2 separate regions of the Homo sapiens genome follow, and region 2 is linked to region 1. Evidence: fine-mapped expression QTL. Tissue or cell type: whole blood. Region 1 holds a variant in brackets; the other region holds the start of a gene. All regions are shown on one strand. Distances are from middle to middle.

Region 1 (8,107 bases):
TATAATAGTGAAAACTGAAAATTATTTAAATTATGAAGTATGAGGAACTAATTAAATAGGCCAGGTGTGGTGGCTCTAATCCCGGTTCTTTGGGAGGCCAAGGTGGGAGGATTGCTTGAGGCCAGGAGTTCGAGGCTGGAGTGAGCTATGATCGTGCCTCTGCACTCCAGCCAGGGTGACACAGTGAGACCTGTCTCTAAATTAATTAATTAATTAAGGTATCTCCAAACAATAAGATACTATCCAGTCACTCAAAGTTATGTTTTAGGTGAGTACACACTATCATGGAAAGATTGTTCCTTATGTATTCATTTAAAATAGCAGATTACATAATAGCATATATGGTCTGATCCTGTAGTATTGTCGTGTTTATTATTTATTTATTTCTCTTCCCCAATAGTACCCTGATTTCTCACCAGAGTATTTTCTCCCTCCAGCGGGGTGTAGCTGGTGGTTGGAGGATTCCTGCCTTCCACATGGCTGCCTAGAAGCAAGGTCCTTCCTTGCCTGCCCAGGCCAGACGGAGCTCAGCTCAGTGGGCTGTGTCTTGCAGGCCTTGAACCTGAGCCAGTGCAAAGCCATCCCCTGCAGCAGCGGCCCTGCACGGGCTGTTCCGGTTGTGTGATGTTTGCTATCCTCTTGCACCATGCTTCCTTGCCCTCAGATGCCCCCTTGGCTCCTGTTGGCCTGAGCCTGGTGCCCCAGTCTCCAGTAGGCTCTGTGAGCACTCTTTCCTCAGCCCAGGTGCCTTCCAGTGAGTCCTGCTTTCTGTCCTTATGGTCAAGGACCCTAACTGATAGGTTCCACAGTGATATTATTCTAAAGAAGTTCTATAGAGAGACACATCCTTGGAAAAAGCTTTCAGAAGAGATGAAGCAAAGCATTAGTAATGGTGGTTAACTTCTGTGGAATTAAGGGGTTTTCCTCTTCTTTTTTGTTTACTGGCATTTTCCAATTTCTCTTTATTGCTTGGGAGCCACTCTAGTAATTTTTAGAGTATTTTACACTTTACATTGTTTTTCCAAAAGAGCCCTTCCTGAGAAGATTCTCTAACGTAGCCATCTCACAGTGAGGTGCCCCTGCAGGGAACGCAAGATAACTCCTCAGGGTGCAGGAAGAAAACCAGGATTTGTTTTAATTTATATTTATGTTCTGTGTTAGAGTTAAATCTCATTGACATCTTCCTGGGGTCCATACAGCAGAAATGCATGTACCAGGAATGCACGTATCAGGAAGGCAGGCGGCTGTCCTGAAGGAAGCTCGGGGAGCCTTCGCTCGTGTACTCATTCCACCTTGCTTATTTCCGTGCAATCACTAACCGTACAGGTGGCCAACTGAGTGAAGGATTTGCAGATGTTATTTGGTTTTAATGACACCAGTCCTCAAAAACTGATAAGAGGCTTAAAAAGTTCCTAAAAAGTAACCTCGAATTGAAGATATCCCAACACCTAAGCACAGGGGGGTTTTCCGAGAACAGTGGGGCCGACAATTCCACCAGGATGAGCTCTTCATCATGTTGTGTAAGAACAAAGACAGGCTAATCGGATTTGATAAAGAAGAACTAAGAAAACTTAAACATTATCAAGACTAGTTGGAAAATAGACTTACCTCTATTCTCATTAACAGTGAGCTTTGCCTAAGTGCGGATCATACCTTGAGTTAGTAACCAGGAATGGTTACCAGCCAGCAAGACAGTTTAAAACTAGGCATTCAGAGCATGGAAACACATCTTGACATGTTTAAAAGCTGTATTTAAAGTCATGCAATACTCACCTATACTTCAGTACATTTCCTAAGTTTGGTGATAAATGCTTAGAAGCCTCTTTTGAGATTTCTTACTAATAGCTGAAAACTTAATGCCGGGGCGTGTGGGGGGAGCCAGCAAGATATATTTGGCATTTTGACCTGCCACACATATAAAACCATGGCCCGATTTTCATAGTGTGCTATTTTATCTTATCTCCTTCTCCACAGAACTAGGTTTGGCCTCAATTTTTCAACTTGTGATTTTTCTTTTCTTTTCTTTTTCTTTCTTTTTTTTTTTTTTTGTGAGATGGAGTCTTGCTCTGTCGCCCAGGCTGGAGTGCAGTGGCACCATCTCGGCTCACTGCAACCTCTATCTCCCGGGTTCAAGCAATTCTCCTGCCTCAGCCTCCCGAGTAGCTGGGATTATAAGTGCACCACCACGCCTGGCTAATTTTTGTACTTTTGTGGAGACGGGGTTTCACCATGTTGCCTGGGCTGGTCTCATACTCCTGACCTTAAGTGAACCGCTCACCTCAGCCTCCCAAAGTGCTGGGATTACAGGCATGAGCCACTGTGCTTGGCCTGATTTTTCTTTTTTAAGAAAAATAACAGTTTCTTCAAATGATTAAGAGTGTTTTCTCCACTAGATGAGGTAAATAATTCCTGCTGCTCTAAAAGTACCATGACTGATAGCACATTTTTAAAAGAAGAAAAAAAGAAACCTCTTAAGGCCTCCTGTTTTCACATTCTAGAAATAAACTTAACGCCTTATAATTAATAGCACCATGACAGCAAACCTCGGCTATCTCCCCACCAGCAGCCCAGGTATGCGCACGTTCTCTCCAATTAGTTTTCTATTATTTACCTACTTCCCCACCTCCCTGTCCACACCCAGGCAGCAGATCTCCATCCCTGCCCCTCCCTCTCTCTTTTTCTCTCTCCCTCTCTGCCTAGCTGGCTTTCTGTAAATAATTATTTGTGTCATAGCTTACAGCTTTTTAAACATTTTCACTTTTATTATTTCATTTAATTTTCACACCAGCCCCGAAAAGTGTTTTTTCCACTTTACAAATTAAGATGCAGAAGCTCAGCAATATTTTTTTATTTTTTTGAGACAAGGTCTCTCTCTGTCACCCAGGCTGAGTGCAGTGGTACAATCATGGCTCACTGTAGCCTCGACCTCCGGGGAAGCTCAGCAATATTAAATGTCTGGGCCAATTACGTAATCAGTAAGCAGCAGAGCCTAACTCCAAATCCCACACTTTCATTCAATATCAGAGCCCCAGGTAGTGCTTTTTACACACAAGCGTGCATAAGGATCCCCTGAGAATATTAAAAATATAAGTTTCCTGGACCCTACCTCCAGAGATTCTGTTTCAGGGGTCTGGAATGGGGCACACCTCCCATTTCTAACACCCTCCTTCCAGATGCTCCTGAAGCAGATGATTGGCAACCATGCTTTCAGAAATAGGCAGGCCTAGGAGGCAGCCACCATGCCTGGCACCCATGAGGCTCTCCGTTTATTTAAGCAGCCCAGGAGGGTAAGGTAGTGACACTGATCTTCAAGGAACTGTCTGTATAAACAGGGTACTTTCTTACATGGAAGGATTTAGAAAAGCGAAAGGAAGGAAGACAGGAAACTAGGAGAGAGAGATCTAAACACATTCCATCCCACAGAAAATACTCCTGCCCTTAACGAACAGTCGTAATCCCAACTAGCCTGCTATCTTGGACTCTTTTTTGTCTCTTGGGCATTTGGTACTTAGACACTGGGTGACTGCAAAGGGGACTAAATCTCTGCATTGCTTCTCAGGAGGGAGAAGGACTAGAGCTGGGCTCTCTATTTTACAGACAGAGGTGCACAGGAAGTGAAGCGCCTGATCCAGAGTGAGTCACACATGAAGCTGGGATCAGAGCACAAGATCGCCAGACTCTCAGGCCTGTGTGTCGGGTCCTGAGTCATGCACCTTCCCCAGCAGTGTGAGAATAGAGATGGCTTTCCACAGGGCCCGGCCAAGCTGTGGGGTATGGCAGGCTCTGCGGAAGCCAGGAGTCATGAGGGTAAGCAAACTTCCTGCACAAGAGGCCAAGCACTCTCCTAGTCGGGAAATGGCATATGGTGACTTACATCAGATGCTGCGGGCGAGGTCAGTGAGCTGAAGAGGCAAAATACACATTGAAGTGATTTGAGTGTAAAGGAAAATGTTCCCTTTGCAAACAAGGTACGTTTATTCTGCAACTTAGGAGATAAAATGAGATTTCTGTGGGGAGTCTATGTTGTGCTTTCTGGTGGCCTTAAAAGAAACAGACAAATTTGTGCTAAAGATAAAAATGAATTACATTCCACAAAGCCAACTCTATGAGACTAAACAGAGAGGATTGCCTTGAGACAAGATGTGAAGTTGAACATCAGTCCGAACTTTTGAAAGAACCCTCGAAGGTGGGGCTGGGGAGGTAGGCAATCTCGACGCAAGCTTCCTCTACTGCCTTCTGTGCAAGAGGGTGTCTCCTCGGAGACAGAATATGATGTCATCACTTGATCATCAAGAGATTAGGGTTCATTCACCAGACTGTACTTCTTTAATGGCTTACAGGTCTTAACGCAGAGCTGTCCTGTATGCTCCAAACAAGTCCGTGCCTGGGTCGACGCA[C/T]TGGGCGCTAGCACACGCCTCAGTGCTGCATGTCCGTGCTGGCCCCTGCCACCGAATGACATGCCCCTGGGTATGCGTCCACCTTGAAGGGTATTTCATATCTCAGCCATCCTCCTTCCCCGCTGCAATGTGTTCCTATCATCAACAGCCTGTCTGCTGATGTTCCGAGGATCACCACACTCCTTTCCTCCTCCGTCTCCGCCCTGTCCTGAAGGCACGCGGTTCATCCTCATCTCTGGCTGGTGATTCTAGCATGCACGGCCGAGCCAGTGGCACATCAGGTCTCTATTTGGATTTTACCTTGGGAAAATCTCAGGTTATCCTGGGGAAAAAAATGATCTTGGGAAACTAGAGAAGGAAGAAATGCCTTCCATTCTTACCACTGCTGGAATTATCTGTCAGGAAGCCTTCCAGAAGTGACGATTCCTCACCACCGTTTTTACTCACTATTTTTTGAATGGGATGACCACATATTAATCATCTAAACTGGAACATTTCTAAGAGTACAAAGGAGACCTATTAATAATTACACTGGGACAGGTATAGTCTGGAACTACCACGGGCAAAGCAGGACAGACGGTCATCCTACCTCTCTAGGCCATGAGTAGGACAAAGACACGTAGGCCAGAGTCCAGGATGACCCCAGCTGACCAAAAAAAAAAAACGTAAACAGAAATAAGCTTCATTCTTGCAAACCTCTGACACGTGGGAGTTTTGTTATCACAATATAACCTAGAAAAAGCTGATACAGCCACTTACTGCTGTGTAACTTCTTGATTGTCACCTTTCTAAAATGGGGATAACTTAATAGCACCTGCACCGATGGGTGGATGTGAGGATGAAATGAGTTCATGTACGTCAAGCACTTAGGACAGTGCCTGCAACGCAGGGAACAGTCAACAAACGTCAGCCACTCTTACTATTTATTCACATAATAACACAGGAGAAGAAAAGAAACACTCTAAGAACACATCGAAGCGAAATTTCAAGGGAAACATATTATCACTCAGGAATTATCACTCAGGCAGGAAAGACCACCCCTTGCTACCAACACCAGCCACTTGCCCTTTTAGGGCCCCGAGCCCTCTCACCCCCTCCCATCTGTCACCCACTCCTCCTACCTGTTACCCACTCCTCCTACCTGGGTCTTTCCCTCATGCGTTAGCCCCACGGACACCATCGGAACTGCTTTCTCCCAGATTCCTCGGCCTTTGATTCCTTCCACCTCACGCACATGACAAAACCTTAACCCTGGTACAACAATCTACCTTTTTCTTTTCTTTTTTGCTCCTGAGCACAAAATCTTCCAGGGTTTCTTGAAAATCCTTACATGGGCTCTTTCTCAACTCTTTCTCCCATTTCCCACAAGAGATATTCCAAAATTACACCATTCTCTTGAAACTCTATAACCTACTACCTTCCTCTCCAAAAGGCAGCAGAGGCCATGAGGTAGGGACCACAAGCGTTGGTTCATTGTTCCTAAATCTCTTTATTGCTCTGGAAGCTGGCCCCTCCCTTCACCTTCTCTGTGGGCTCTCAGCCCTTGGACTAGAAATGAACTTGCTACATCCACCCATCTTCCAAAAATCACTCCCCGAGCCTGTTGTCCGTTTCCTCCTCTTCACTGCCGAATAACTTGTCCTCCAGGCTGCAACCTTCTCACATCCATTCCTTACTCCATCCACTCAACTCCATACCCTGTTGCTTCCCCACATCTGCTGTGGGAGAGGCCCTCAATGAACTCTCCATTGCTAACACCAATGGACGTTTTTTCCGTCTTTAACTTCCCTCTCCTCTCCACTACATCTGGCATGGCCACTGCCTCCTCCTTGCAATTCTCTCCGATCTTGGCATCCAAGATGCTTCTTTCCAGCTTTCCCTCTTCTCAGGCTTCTCCTTCCCAGTCTCTTTTGTGGGCTCTTCTTCCTCTGCCTTCCCGTAAATGCTGATATCCCCCATGGTTTTGTTCTAGACTGTCTTCTCTTCTACTTTCAAGGCATTAATACTACTTACATGCTGACAGTTCCAAAATCCAGGTCTCCAGCCAGATCTCCCTCCTATATCCAATTGATTATTGAATGTCACCCTTTGGGTGTCCCAAGGTGTCTGCACCCAACCTCATCATTTTGCTTACCAAATGCCCCACTTGCTCCTTGGACTTCTTATCTGAATGAATGGCACTTTTACCCATCGTCCGAGCCAGAAACCTGGGATTCATGCTTGACTTTTCCCAGTCTATCCCCTCCCACCAACCAAATAGCCTACAAACTGGTCTCACTTCTAGTCTTGACCTTTCAAATCTATTTTCCATGCTGCTTACAAATGATCTTTCTCTGTGATCTTCAGAATAAAGTCCAAACTCTCACACTGAAACCTTAACTCAGCACCTAACCCGATATCCTTAATGATACCGCTCCTGTTTACCACTCCAATTTCACCTCTCATCATGACCCCCAAATCTCCCACATTCCAAATATACTGAGCTGCTTTCAATTCCCAGGTGGTTCCATGTTTCATGACACCTCTAGGGTTTCTGGACTTGCTGCTCACCTGCTGAAATGCCCTGTGCCCCGCCACCCACTTACTAAACTACTCGTTTTAAAGTCAGGAGCTTCCTGTCCTGGGAAGCCTTCTCCGCTCACTAGCACCTTTCATCTTCCAGAAAGCTCTCTCCCTGCAAGGCTGAGTAGCTGCCTCTCTTCGGCACTTGCACGGGACCCTGAACATGCCCCTATCTGAAATGTGGCTGCTGACTGCCTTGCAGGCTTCCCTCACTAAACTGTGACCTGGATTCGTTAGGGACTCCGGTTCCCAGCACATCATCTCATGGTACTCCTTCAGTGTTTCATGAATGAATGAACAGCGACAGTCTCTTGGGTAGCAGCCGCCTCTTTTGGGGGCAAGACTACATGCCTGAGGAAGGCTCACAGCAACTCTAAATGTTTACATCTATGTAGATACACACATATAGTGGTGAAGCCATCTTCAAATAGAGACCCGTGTGTGTGTGTGTGTGTGTGTGTGTGTGTGTGTCTTGTTATAACAGAATATCTAAGTTTGGAAAATTGTTCACTTCCCTTTACTTTATCTTCCCCTTTGCTTGTAAGTTGCCATATAGTTGCCATATAAGATGCCAAGATCGGAGAGAATTGCAAGGAGGAGGCAGTGGCCATGCCATATATTTTTCCATTGTGACTGCTTGTGCTTCATTCTGCTCTTTCAGGAGCTGTACATTTGCACACCATAACATTTCTCAGTATTCTTACTCAGTATTCAGGACAATGCTCCCATGACAGATATGCGGAGTGGGTGAGAATTCTAAAGACAAAGGGAGAATTGCCACTACCTTACACTATCAACTTCCACTCAACCTTCTTTTCTCTAGTTCCAATGATCTCAACTCCTTTAGCTACTCCATAAATGGTGACATGCTGGATCAGCAAATATAAATGTTTACACTAAGTTATTATTATCCCAAATGATATTTGTAATTGGCACTCATAAAAAAATAAATTAGTAATATTTATTTTGATAAATCACCTTCCACACTCAGATTGATGAAGCATTTGTTATTGTTTAAAAAAGAAGCCTTCATTACACTGCTACTCGTTTTCGAGTGGTTCGTTCTGCCCCCTCTTAAGATCTTTACATGCCAAACCTTGGGTAATTAAGTCATTTTCATTTTGTCAGCTTAATTAATTCGAAGGTGA
Region 2 (8,107 bases), 120 kb after region 1:
ATAGGATAGGTACCCTGAAACTTATTCCCCCTTTAGAACTTTTAGAAATCTCAATATTAAGGATGAACTATTTAAAACATATGTGTATTTCTACAATGAGGTTTTTTGTAGTTGTTTTTTAAAGACATGCTAGTGAATACCGTGGCACTGTGAAATAAAACGTTTTGTTGAGCCAGATGGAATAGAAGAATGTATCTTACCGGTAAAGCAGAGGGGAAAAGAGACCTAAAACGAGTTTTGTGTACTTTTAGGTATAGAATAAGTTTGGGGAAAATAGCTAGGAATGCTTTGGTTAAAATCTCATAAGCTGTCTTTGATTAATTCAAATGTTCTGAATTCAACAAATATTTATTGATTACCTACCACGTTCCAAGCACTCTGCACAACACTCAGTATTAACAGATCAGAAATGGTCCCAGATCTTTTGGAACTTAGAGGGTACTGAACACATCCTTCAAAATTATCCTTTCTTTTGTGTGATTCCACGGTCATCAAATGACTTCTGAAATACAAATTCACACTACCCGAAGCTTAGTACCCATAAAACAGTATATTATTATATTAGTATATTGCCAAAATTATTATATTAGTATATTGGCAAAATCAGCCTTCAAGTCAATGTATATACCCTTATTTAAATTAATAAATCATTCAGGTTTGCACATCAGTCTTTTATGAGTTTAGTTGAGTGAATCCTCAAAACTTAATCAATTCTGATTAATTGGTTAGACGTAATTTCTGAAAATTCAAAATACAGTAGCTGACAATCAAATATAGTAATAGACTATTTCCATAAAAAGATCTTACCACCAAAATGAGTCTCTACTTAGTTTATCCTCTAACAAAATGCCTTTATTTCATAATACCCTTCACAAACTGCAATTAGTTAATCCATAAAACTGTTAACAATAAATGAGATACAGCACATGAGTGCTTCTCGAACTTTGTTTTTTGTTTTTGTTTTTTTTTTTTTTTGAGACGGAGTCTTACTCTGTCGCCAGGCTGGAGTGCAGTGGTGTGATCTTGGCTCACTGCAGCCTCCGCCTCCCCGGTTCAAGCAATTCTCCTGTCTCAGCCTCCTGAGTAGCTGGGACTACAGGGCGTGCCACCACGCCCAGCTAATTTTTGTATTTTTAGTAGAGACGGGGTTCACCATGTTGGCCAGGATGGTCTCGATCTCTTGACCTCGTGATCCGCCCGCCTCAGCCTCCCAAAGTGCTGGGATTGCAGGCGTGAGCCACCGCGCCCGGCCTTCTCGAAAGTTAATGTACATACAAATCACCTACAAACATGTTAAAATGAAGACTGATTCATTATTAGGTCGGTGGCAGCCAGTGATGTCCAGGCTGCTGTCCACGGACTACAAGGATACACACCTAGCACAGTGGTTGGCACCCAGACTACTCAGCCCAGTTAACTATTTCCTCCCATTTGTAAATTTCTCATCTCCCTTACTCATCTCACCTTCCTTGGAAGCAAAGACAATGTCTTTCATTTTCGTATCTTTCAAAGTTCTAAGTAGAATGCCTTATCTACATAATGGCATTGAATATATGTATTCTGAATGAATGGCATCCAGCTTTTAACAGTCATTACTTCTATGAGTTATCGACAAAATTGTTTCTCTGAATTTACTTTAAATGGAAAAAAATTGTTCAAAAGCTGAAAAATCAGGAAAGCTCTCAGTTTTTAAAAAACGAGAAATACTGTATTTGTACCATACTCCAGTGCGTTTTTTCTCATGCTGACCTAACCAAGTCTTTTTTAAGAAAATAAATATCCATAATTACCTTGCTAGTTTATCTCCTAATGGCTTTTTTTTTTTTTTTTTTGGTAAAGAACAAAAATAAGCCATCCATTTTTCTGGGAAAGTTTTAAAATTATCCTTTTCTTTGTATGTAAGGGCATCTTCGTAAAGCTAATACCTACAAAATAATCCTGGCTTCTCAGATTAATATTACATAAAAATCACGGTATCCTTGTTATCAATAGAGAGATCGTTGGCAGTTTCATGTGTTTCTTCGCCGATTTTCTGTGATCACCGGAACAAGTGACTAAATATCTCAGGGTTCGTTTCTTCCCTTGTAAATATTAGCTGTTAACCTGACCACACTTGGTTCTATGCTGAGAAAAATGGTTTGAGAGGGTGTTTTGAGCACTCCAGAAAGAAAACAAAGGACGAATATTATTTTCACTTCCTACTTGTTTACCTTTACTGTTTCATGGCTTTTTGGATATTTTTGGGTGACTGCCAACTATCAAACACAATTATTTTTTAGTACCTAAGGGCATGGTAACAAAGGATCGGGTTTTAATCATACCATGAACTGAAAACAACATGAACGGTCTTGCAAATAAACGTAATCACTTTTTGGCTTCTCCGCACAGACAACACATCGATGCCTCCGAACTGGCGACCTTAAGCCTCGAAGCGCAGTCCCGCCTCTGCAGGCGGCCACCGCGCGGGGCTGGGTGGTCCCCTGGGAGAGGCCCGGCCGGCGCACAGCGGTTCCAAGATCTCAACCAGGTTTTGGTTTTTCGTCGTTATTAAAATTGCTGTTTGGGTGTGTGTCTTTTTTTTTTTTTAAGACAAGACACTAGGCCAATTGCGCGGCGCTAGCCGGCGGCGGGGCAGGCATTTCGGAGGACCGGGAAGCTCGGAGGCAGCGGCTGTGACCTCCAGACCGTCCTCCTGCGTCCTCATTAAGGAGGCAAAATGGTGGCCGCGAACGCCATCAGGCTGCGCCAGCGCGGGGTTTCGGCGCAAACAGAGGATCCCGTCAGATTCAGGCGGCCAGAACTCCTCCTCACCCAGGCCACCCCCCGGGGCCCACAGCCTGGACAGCTACGGGCGTGGCGCCTGCGGCACCGAGACCCCAGGCGAGAGTGTGGAGGCGGCGGCGGCTTCCCCGCGACCGTGAACAACGACGCCATTATCAGCACCCCCTGCCGGCGCCTCCGGCGCAGCCCGCGCAGGATGCAAGGCCCGGCCTCCGAGGGAGGGGGAAGGAGGACGGGGCGGGAGGAGGGGAAGAGGGTGAAGAGGGCGGGAGGAGAAAGAAGAAGGCGGGAGGAGGGGAGAGAGAAGAGGGAGGGAAGAGGGGAGAGAGGCGGGGCGGGGCGGGGGAGAGAGGCGGGGCGGGGCGGGGCGGAGCGGCGGGCCGGGCGGGCTACGGGGACGGGGGCAGGGCGACTGCTGCTGCCGGGTGGCCCCCTCCTCAGGCCGCCCTTTCCCTGCGGGTGGGAACTCCAGATGGACGAGGGCCCACCCCACCCGGCGCTTCCCCGTGCAGCCCGGGGTCGCGGCGGGCGGCGAGGGCAGCGGCTCCCCGGCTCCCCTACCTTACCTTCCCTGTCCTTCTCGTCCGCCATCTTGCTGCGGAGCCGGTCGCCTGGGAGATGCCTAACGATAACCTCGGCCGCGGTGTCCCGGCCTGCTCAGCGCCCCGCGGCGAGCCTGGCCTGGAGGAGGGGCCGCTCTGAATCCCGGGGGAGGAAGACCCTTGGGCGGGGCGGGGCGGGGAGGAGGCTCCGAGCGCGCGCCCTGTCCCCGTTTCGCGCCACGACCCTCGCGCTGGGGGAAGACCAGAGGCCCCGTCTGCCACCCGGCCCCCGGCCTTGTCCCTCCAGACCCGAGGCCGGAGCCGGACTTGTCCCGGGCCTAGCATGTTGCTTCATCACACGGTCCCCAACCCCTCCTTTCCCTTATTTCTCATCCATTTGGGGACAGCACGCGCGCGCACACACCCCTCGCCCCCTCCTGTCCTGTTTGTGCGACGTGGCGTTGCTCGATTTTTGTTGTTAACTGCAGATTTTGAAAAGCGCCGGAGAGCTAGGTGAAGAGCTGGGCTCCCAAGGGGGTGATAGAACCAGCCCGCGGCCCGGCCTCCTCCTCCCGCTTCCCATTCGCAGCCCGCCTCCCGCCGGGAAGCGGCCCGGCTGCTGCAGAACGGCCGCGCCTGCCCTCCCGGTTTCTCCCGTCCAGTCTTCACCGTCCTTTCCCAGAGAAAGCGACAGCACAGCCTATGACAACCGAAGCTAAAACGGAAAAACTGGGCCGGGCGCAAGAGGAAACCAGAGCCATTCGACTATTGCTAGAGGAGAGGAATAGCTGCAGGAAAACATGCGCAAAATAGCACAAACATTGCGTCGTCAAGGCTGCAATGTCTAATACAAAATAGAAGGTTCTCATAGCAACAAAAACGTGCCCATGTTGTGCTCAGTATTACATGCGTTAAAATGTTCTTAGTTGTGAAATTTGACATGACCGCTAGTTAAAGTTACAATGGAAGTTTTAAATCCCGCTTTCCGAAAACTTTGCAGCTATAGCATGAAGTTAAATTTTTGTCTTATTTTCTGGATAAGTTTACTATACTGGAACATAGTAAAGCTCTTTTTATAAAGAGCTTTGAATAAAATACCTAATGATGTGGTTGAAACGAACACCTATTTTCAAAACTAATCTTAAGTGGTATTTCAGTGCATATGTTATGTAAAAGCAATTTATAAACTAAATTTTAAGAGCCTTCAAAATACAAGGTACTCGTATTTAATGACTTAACAGTTTTAATGCTTTTATTGTTTCTATAATCTCTCAGGAAATCCTAAAACTGACTATATTTTTCTTTATTAAAATAACTTTTTCTGTAGAAGATACCCATTTGGCGCTGTGATCAGCATTCTACTTGAAATTGAATATAAACAACTGAATCATTACAAAATGGCTCATGTTAGAAGATACTTAAAACGAATACAATCTTGTACAGTAAATGTTTAACACCCCAAAATAACGAAAAGTAATTATTAGCATTCATTTATATCTAAATCTCAGTCAATATGATCTAAATATTTGTGTTTAAAGACTCCCCCTTTCCATATAGATAATGAAGGGCTTTGAAATAAGTGTAGGAAACCCTAAGTTTGGTCTCAGGCTTCCTATTCATTCACTATGCTTTTTCGTGTGCTGTTTACAGTTTCCTTTTTCTGGAATGCCTTTCCCTGCTTTTTTCCCCCGCCAACATTTCAGCTTCCCACAGACACACATTTGTGCCCTCCTGGTTGTCCTGCAGGATGACCTTTGTTTTTGTTTTTGTCTTTTGTTTTTCGAGACAGGGTCTCGCTCTGTCGTCCAGGATGGAGTGCAGTGGTGTGATCTCTGCTCACTGCAACTTCCGCCTCCCGGTCTCAAGTGACCCTCCCACCGCAACCTCCCAAGTAGCTGGGAGGAGCGGCGCGCGCCACCATGTCTGGCTAGTTTTTGTATTTTTTGTAGAGACAGAGTTTCCCCATGTTGCCCAGGCTGCTCTCAAACTCCTGAGCTCAAGCGATCTGCCGCCTGCCTGGCCCTCCCAAAGTTCTGGGATTACAGGTGTGAGCCACTGTGCCTGGCCAGGATGACCTTTTTGAAGTCACCTAGTCATTGAAGCTTTCCCTCTCAGCCTTTTCCTCTGTGGCCCCATGCTTATAGAGCCTCCCACATTGATTTGCAGTGCCTTCGTTCGTTCACTTTATTTCCACCTACCAAACAGTAAGATCTTGAAGACAGAAACGGCATTATTCGTTTATATATCCCCGGTATCTAGTACAATTTTTCTGTTTGCAATAATAAATGTCTTAAAACTTAAGAAAGGAGTAAGTCTTCTCAATGACTTTTTTTAAAAAAGACCCAGATTCAGCACTTATTGTATGTAAGACAGACCTTCCTTTTACATTACATTTTTCATCAGTAAAAGTACTGGGCCAGGCGCGGTGGCTCACGCATAATCTCAGCACTTTGGGAGGCTGAAGCGGGTGGATCACTTCAGGTCATGAGTTAAAGACCCACCTGGCCAACATGGTAAAACCCCATCTCTACTAAAAATAGAAAAATTAGCCGAATGTGGTGGCTCACGCCTGTAATCCCAGCTACTCGGGAGGCTGAGACAGAAGAATCGCTTGAACCCAGGAGGCAGAGGTTGCAGTGAGCCGAGATCCGCCACTGCACTCCAGCCCAGATGACAGAGCAAGACTCCATCCCCAAAAAAAGGTACTAGTATTTCATGTTAATAAAATGGAATTCTTATATAAACATATATAAATTAAAAATTATTTTAAGAGTTGAACAGATTTCTCTGCAAATCCCCCTATATTTTTATATTTTTTAAACTAACTGTATTCAGCAAAGCTTTTTATTATTTAATTTATTCCAAACCACATTAATCAGTATTTCTCTGAACTCCTACAGCACATTTAAAACAGTACTGTTTCTCTAGGTGTGGGTGAGTAAAAAAATATTTAATATATGTTAATTAACTTCCGCATCTCCTGACCCCACTAAGGTTTGAATAGGAGCCTCCCCCTTTATAAACCCTTTTTATATACCCACACTACCTAGCCTAATTGGGGCACATATTAGCTGCTTCATACATACTTTTCAACTGCCTAATTTGCTGATTAGGCATAAAAGTATATAATTCTGGAAAAGTCTCCACAAGGTGAAAATGATTATCCAAATAATAAAGGCCCACAATGCCAGTGAGTACATTATCTGCATTATGCTGATATTTGACTCCTTTCAACTCTCTTTGGTTGTAGAAACATGACCGATGATTATATTACACTTTTAACTCTTTAAATATTATTAGCTTGCTTTGGACTGTGGAAAACTAACTACAATCATTTTTATTCCTCAGAATATATTTTGCGGCCGGGCACGGTGGCTCATGCCTGTATACCCAGCACTTTGGGAGGCCGAGGTGGGCAGATCACGAGGCCAGGAGTTCGAGACCAACCTGGCCAATATGGTGTAACCCCGTCTCTACTAAAAGTACAAACATTAGGTGGGCATAGTGCTGCAAGCCTGTAGTCCTAGCTACTCAGGAGGCTGAGGCAGAAGAATCACTTGAACCCAGGAGGCAGAGGTTGCAGTGAGCCAAGATCATGGCATTGCACTCCAGCCTGGGTGACAGAGCAAGACTCCATCTTAAAAAATATATATATATATATAGATAGATAGATAGATAGATGTATATATACATATACGTATACATATACGTATATGTATACGTATACATATATGTAGAGTATATATACATCTACGTATATGTATACTCTACATATATGTGTATATATACATATATACTCTACATATATACACATATATATGTATATGGCTTCTGAGCTATAGCTTGAGTAACTTGTTAACTTGTAATACTTGAGTAACTTGTAATATTGTATGCTGCCAAAGCATTTTTTCACTTAAACATCTCATCGTGATTTTCAGAAATTTAGAATCGGAAAATCGTTTTTGATCCCACTCATGGATATATAAACTTAGGGCTAAATCAGAAAAGCAAGCACATAGTTTTAGACAATGACACTTATTTGCTTAATTACTCTATGGAGCCAGGTGGATATGTACAGGTTATGTCCTTTTGCATGCTTGAATTTATAGTGAGTTGAATCTGTTCAGACAGCCATCAGTGATGTGTCCGTGAGGAACACAGAAAATGTTTCTTTTTGTTTAAAGGAATTTATTTATTTACTTATTTTTACTTTTTTTTAATCATACTTTAAGTTCTAGGATACATGTGCACAACGTGCAGGTTTGTTACGTATGTATATATGTGCCATGTTGGTGTGCTGGACCCATTAACTCGTCGTTTACATTCGGTATATCTCCTAATGCTATCCCTCCCCTCTCCCCCCAAAAATGTTTCTTTTGAATGCAGTTGACTCAGTTACCTAAGATGTGAGTGAAGTGGAAAGGGTAAGTGGTGGGAATAATGCAAAATGATAGTTTAAAAATCCTTCATGCCCTGTTTACTTTCCTAATATGGAGATAATTGAAATCTGGACTGGGAATAATTTTTTTTTAAAAAAACTGGATTTTCCTTGGGCATTGCCATTTACTAATCTCATGATCCTGGGCGAGTCATGTAATCTCTTTAAAACTTATTAACTCATAAAAATAGAAGTAACAATGTCCAAACTTCCTATTTTAGAGTTTTCACGAGGCGCAATAGATGTAACTGAAAGCTTCGAGAAGTTTAAAGGACTTGCAAGGAAATCTACTGAAATAAGCCCCATTCCACCTGGGCAGAAGCACTCAGACGCCAAACCCCACCTT

The links. PIP is the estimated chance that this variant, and not a neighbour inherited with it, causes the effect.
Region 2: DRC8 starts here. The variant in region 1 is fine-mapped to the expression of DRC8 in whole blood (TOPMed, PIP above 0.99).

What each region holds. Positions count from the first base shown.
Region 1 is chr1:245,087,639-245,095,745 of GRCh38, reverse strand. It overlaps DRC8 (dynein regulatory complex subunit 8), which reads right to left. Exons shown (of 8, transcript NM_032328.4): 8 at 7,909-8,107. Among named protein-coding and RNA genes, the nearest start is that of KIF26B, 63 kb to the left of the region's middle. The variant C/T (reference allele first, on the strand shown) is at 4,398.
Region 2 is chr1:244,965,684-244,973,790 of GRCh38, reverse strand. It overlaps DRC8 (dynein regulatory complex subunit 8), which reads right to left and starts at 4,109. Exons shown (of 8, transcript NM_032328.4): 1 at 3,748-4,109; 2 at 3,348-3,462. The coding sequence starts at 3,372. LOC124900416 reads left to right here and starts at 3,221. Exons shown (of 4, transcript XM_054328428.1): 1 at 3,221-3,465; 2 at 3,467-3,536; 3 at 3,539-6,818; 4 at 7,983-8,107. The coding sequence starts at 3,254. The coding sequence ends at 3,805. EFCAB2-AS1 (EFCAB2 antisense RNA 1) reads left to right here and starts at 2,922. Exons shown (of 2, transcript NR_111907.1): 1 at 2,922-2,979; 2 at 3,812-8,107. RefSeq lists enhancers at 2,447-2,816, 5,255-5,759 and silencers at 2,987-3,076, 3,087-3,446, 3,457-3,636, 3,907-4,046.